Linked DNA regions of Homo sapiens: region 1 is linked to region 2. The links come from fine-mapping of genetic effects on gene expression. A gene starts in region 2. The other region holds a variant in brackets. All regions are shown on one strand. Distances are between the middles of the regions.

Evidence for each region. PIP is the estimated chance that this variant, and not a neighbour inherited with it, causes the effect.
Region 1: its variant is fine-mapped to the expression of PLCB4 in fibroblasts (GTEx, PIP above 0.99).

Annotation. Positions count from the first base shown.
Region 1 is chr20:9,033,539-9,036,450 of GRCh38, reverse strand. No RefSeq gene overlaps it. Among named protein-coding and RNA genes, the nearest start is that of PLCB4, 34 kb to the left of the region's middle. The variant G/A (reference allele first, on the strand shown) is at 1,325.
Region 2 is chr20:9,067,638-9,070,504 of GRCh38, reverse strand. It overlaps PLCB4 (phospholipase C beta 4), which reads right to left and starts at 1,418. Exons shown (of 40, transcript NM_001377142.1): 1 at 1,299-1,418.

The DNA.
Region 1 (2,912 bases), 34 kb after region 2:
GGTTGGGAGTTCAAGACCAGCCTGACCAAAATGGTGAAACCCCGTCTCTACTAAAAATACAAAATTAGCCAGGTGTGGTGGTGCACGCCTGTAATCCCAGCTACTTGGGAGGCTGAGGCAGGAGAATCGCTTAACTCGGGAGGCAGAGGTTGCAGTGAGCTGAGATTGCACCATCACACTCCAGCCTGGGTAACAAGAGTGAAACTCTGTCTCAAAAAAAAAAAAAAAAAAGATGCCAAATTGCCCAGCCCATGTGTCCAAAATGCCAGTTCCCTGATTAATCACTACTAGGAATATGCGGGAGGGACCTCTTGCCCCTGCTTGTTGGGAAAAGGGGAAGTTCAGACACAAGTAGAAGTTATACACACTAATGACATATTCTTTTTATGAGTTACAACACAGAATGACATCCTCTTATGGAGAGTGGTCTCCCACCTTGTATTGACCTTGAAAACTCATGGAAAAATAAGATAGGGAGCCATGCCAGTACCTCTTGTCTCCAGCTGGCCCCACCTGCCTTGAGATCATAGCGCCTTTTATCTAGAACCTTACCCTGACTGGGACCTTAGTGCATTATGACTATATAATAAGTACACCAGCAGCTATACCTACCACCACCACATTCCTACTATCTGATTGGCCCAGGAAAAGACCTGCCTCCCCTCTTCCCATACAATCAAAGCCTTCTCTGTTTATGAATATATTGTTACACTCATGCAAATCTGGGCTTCCCTTCAATTTACCCCTTTCCCTGTCCCCTTTGCTTCCACAATCTCCATAGTCACTTGGGGTGAATTAATCTCTCCTCATCCTTCTGTTCTGCTCTAGGCTGTTGTGCCAGCCCTGCTGTGCACCAGGGGGATTTGCTTATTTATTTATTTATTTTTATTTTTATTTTTAGAGACAGTGTCTCACTCTGATGTCCAGGCTGGAGTGCAGTGGCGTGATCTGCAGCCTCAAACTCCTGGGCTCAAGTGGTCCTCCTGCTTCAGCCTCCCAAGTAGCTAGCTGGGACTATAGGTATGTGTCACCACGTCTGGCTGATTTTGAAATTTTTTGTAGAGACAGCATCTCGCTATGTTTCCCAGGCTGGTCTCCAACTACTGGCCTGAAGTAATTCTCCCCAGAGGGCTAGGATTACAGGCATGAGTCACCAAGCCCAGCCAAGCAGGGGGCATTTAAAGGGCTCTAAGGCTGTAGCTAAGATATCCTCACCAGTGCATTTATTGGTGTGCATCCTGAGGGGAAAATTTTGAAAAATGCTTTAGGGACACATGGATGAAAGATACACAAACTCTTCTCAAATAAGACAGGCTTGCAAAAG[G/A]CTAACTACTATAAAGCAGAACATTGTGAGGGTCAAAGCAGAATGCTTAAAATCTGGGGGTGTGTGGGAGATAGAGGTGAGTATTCAGGAGGGTTTTACAGAAACCTTTAAGCAGAGCCAAGTTTGTTTTTGTATTTTTTTTTTTTTTTTGAGACAACCTATGTCACACAGGCTGACATAATCATGGCTCACTGTAGCCTCAACCTCCCGAGCTCAACTGATCCTCCCACCTTAGCGTCCTGATTAGCTGGGACTACAGGTGCACACCACCATGCCTGGCTAATTTTTGTATTGTTTGTAGAGATGGGGTTTTGCCATGTTGGCCAGGCTGGTCTCAAACTCCTGGGCTCAAAGTGATCCACCCACCTCAGCCTCCCAAAGTGTTGGGATTACAGCCATGAGCCACCATGCCCAGCCGCCAAGTTCTTCAAAAGCATTTTTAGTAGGGATGTAAATGCTAAAACTGACTATTCTATACAGGAAAGGCTAGAGCTAACTCTAGCTAACTCTCACCATGAGAGATAGAATGCTGAGAGTAGTTTCAGTAGGAATAAAAATGAAAAGATGAATATAGAGTATGAAGGCGCTAATGATGATGCCTTAGCTAGGATTCTGTAGAGGCGAAATCTGAGATGTTCTCAGGAACAACTCAGATAGCACCAGAAAGAAACCAGATAGGATCACTTTCAGCTAAAGGGTAGCCTCAGCCTGTTCCTGCAGGGAGCTCTGGAGCAAGAGCAGCACCACAGAGCTGTCTTCCCTTAAAGCAAGGGGGCTGGGCTTTTAAAAATTCACCATATTGGCTACTAACTGGGGGCTCTTTGTAGGAGAAGCCACCATTTCCCAGGGCATTGTGGGTGAGGCGGCTCCCACAGCCAAGGACAGCTCTCCAGAGAAGGATACATCTATGAACTATGAACAGCCAACATTTACATCAACTGGGTGTCTGGGTGAGACACCAAAATTATCAATGGCAGAAAAATTTTTATAAGACTTAATGACACAGTAGATGGTGATTTCTTAAAATGGAGTTTCTTATGTTTCCATTTTCTGTTTTGATTTATCTGTACTTCAAATGCATGTGTTTTTAAACCATAAAGCAATGTACAAAAAGCAAAGTATGAGAAAGATTTACTGCTTCATACTGAAAGAAATCTCTCTTCCCTCTCTCTTTCTACTCTAGCAGAGATATAGAAGAATGTTTAGGAATTAATGCTAAGCTGCATCAGTAAAGAAGTCAAGCAGTTGACCAAGGTTATCTATGTCAGGACTCAACTCAAATTTGTTTGAGCATAGAGGGACCTTATTGGCTTGGGTCACTACAAAGGGTGAGTTTGGACCTAATGTATGAGATGGCTGATTCAGGACTCAAAATGAGGTGATCATTCTACCCAGCAATCCCATTACTGTGTATATACCCAAAGGAATATAAATTGTTCTGTTATAAAGACACATGCACGCATATGTTCATTGCAGCACTATTCACAATAGCAAAGACATGGAATCAACCTAAATGCCCATCAATGATAGACTGGACAAAGAAAATGTAGTACATATGCACCATAGAATATTATGCAGCCATAAAAAA
Region 2 (2,867 bases):
CAGATAGTGAGGGATTACACCACATGCCCCTGCTGAGCTAGACTTTTGATCTTCTGTATGATTCTATAACTGAGGCCACTCAAATTTGAAGAGTATAAAATATGAGGGTCTCAGTTCAACCACACATTTCTGAAAACAGCCGTCTTGAAAACAATAAAAGAATAAAGTTAAAATTTTACCTTCCCCCGCAACACACACACAATTTTTCTATTCTGAAAAACACAGTTGTTCAGATACTTTCTTAACCTCCTTGGAGCCTCCCCAGGTAAAGTCACCAGTTGCTTTTCCTGGTCATGTTTACATTATAAATCTGATTTCTCTTTAAGGGGAAATTCAATATCATTTTAAAATGATACATAGCTGCCTATGTTTGAATAACGTTATTTCCAGACAAAAAGAATTATTAAACAGCTATCTCCACATACCTATAACTTAAATATATAGACCACTAAGTATTACGTATATGGAAAAAAAAACACCTTTCCTGAATATTCTGGCCAAAATTAAATTTCAAATACATGTTTTAGAACAATAGCTAGAATCACTACAGAAGTTAAGAGGAAAAAAAGTTGGAAGAGTAGGGTCATCTTTCAGATATATCCATATTTATGGAAACTATAGTGGGCAGTTGTATTTCTCTCTAGGAAAATGCTAGTTTTATGATTCTAGATAAAGTTGCACTTAAACACACTTGGAAATTAGAGAATTCCATATTTCCATACTTCGATTCAGTACCATATACGAAGTCTACACTCAGAAGTATTGTACTATACAGAGTCTAATTGGTTAAAGCAAAAGCAACTTTAAAATTCTGAAAATAAGGATTTCCTTCACTAACAGGCTTTTAGGAGGCCCGAACCCTGCCCCCAATGAGTGCTAAGCCTGTCAGTGTTGTTTTAAGTGGAAACGGTCAATCATTTCTATGATTTCCCCAGAAGAGGCAAGAAGATCCACACGCATACACATTTACATGCGTTGCACGGTGCCAACTATTTCCAACCAAAATAATCATATACACGTCGAGCCGAGCTATTTCTAGCCCAGAAGAGGGTGAACGTCTGGAGAGAGTCTGAGGAAACCCAGCAGGCGATGACTGCAGGGGAAGGGGGATGGCGTCTGGGTCCCCTGCCTCCCGCGCGCACAGGGCGCCTGGCACCCGGCACCTGCACGGGGTCCCCGCTGGGCATCCGGGTGCGCGCGCGCGCGCGTCCGGGACGCACCCGCGGAAAGCAAACAAGCCCTGAGGGCCAAGGCGGGCGGGAGCATCCTCGGGCGGGACCCGAAATGCCTTTTCCTACCTGTCACTTTGCCTGGAGCTGCTGCCGGGGATGCGGCGACGGCCGCTGCCTGGAGACCCAGTGTGTACGCGCGTGTGTGTGCGCGCCCGTGTGTGCGTGTGCGTGTGTGTGTCTGTGTGTGAGAGATCTTGTTGGCGGTGCAGCTCACTTACTGCTCCCGGCGCGGCGCCACCACCCCCTCCTCGCCATAAAGAGCCGCCGCCAAGCCCCCTCCCGGCGCACCCCAGTCCCGCCCTCCCGCCTGCCTCCGCACCCCCTCCCTGGCCTCCCCGCCTCCCCGTCTCCGCGCCGCGCGGTCCTTACCTCAGTTGAGGGCGGGGGTCTCCGCCGTGGCTCCCCAGCGAGCCCACGGGGCAGCGCCGACCCGCCCGCCCACCGCCGGGCCCTGCGCGTCCCCCGCTCCGGGCCCCGCCGCCCCTCAGCGGCCAGCCGCTTCCTCCTCCCCTGCCCCCGAGCCTCCCTCCTCGTTCTCGCCTCCCGGCTCCAGAGCCCGAGCTGTCGCCTCGCAGCCCCAACCTGCCCAGGCTACGGAGCATGCCCAGTGCGGCGCGCCGGGCTGGGCTGGGGGTGGGCAGGGGCCGGGCCGGCCGCCCAGTTGCCGCGAGCCCGCAGGGCGAGGAGTGGGCGCCGACTGGGTCGGGGGCGCAGCCTCGCGAGCCGGGGGCCGAGCAGCCGAGGCAGGTGGTGGGCAGCGCCAAGAGGAGGTGGGTGGGGCATCCGGGGAAGCCGGCCCGCGGCGCGCTCCTCTGGGGTCTCCCTGGCGGCTCCCCGCGGCATGTGCCCCATGCCCAAGGGTCGGGGGCGCACGGGATGGCGCTGGGCGCAGAACCCAGGGAGCGGGGGCAGAAAAGCGGCACCCTCCTCGGATGGGAGACCCGCAGCCCGCCGTGGGCCGTGTGGAGGGGCTCAGGACTGGCCAGAACGGGGCCCCCAAAGCCGTTGGCTGGGTGGGGGACGTGCTTATTTGTTTATATTCGGTTTCATAAACCCATACAGCGCCTACAATGCGTCCTGCAGTGTTCTAAACGCTTTTTATTCATTTAATCCCTAAAACAATCTTCCAAAGAGTACTACTGCCTCTTTTTATTTCGCGGGTCTTACACAGAGCCACAGAGATTAAGTGGTTCCAAAAAGTCTTCCCACAAGTGCAACCTCAGACATGCAAATCCCCCAGACTTTGGTCCCTGGGATGCTGGGGTGCTGCTCCAGCCAGTTCCTGGCTTTTCCCGGCCCTACAACGGCCCCCAGGTGCCTCCGAGTCACACTCACACCCAGGCCCTAATGGTGTTCGGTCTGGCATCACCCTTGTGTGGACCCTCACAACGTGCTGCTCCCGAACTCCGGAGGGCTCCCTCCTCCCCACTCCGCCTCCTCCTTCTCCCGGCCGGCGGCCACCAAAACCCGGAGACGTGGCACCTGCGCATTGGGGACTGGGGCCATGCTCGCAGCTGCACTAGGCATGCTCAGCCGCCTGAGCCGGTCCGGCTGGCCAGGAGGAAAGAAAGGGCCAGACGGGGCGTGAAGTGTAAGAAATGGAGGGGGAATGTGTGTGCAAACAATAGTCCAGGC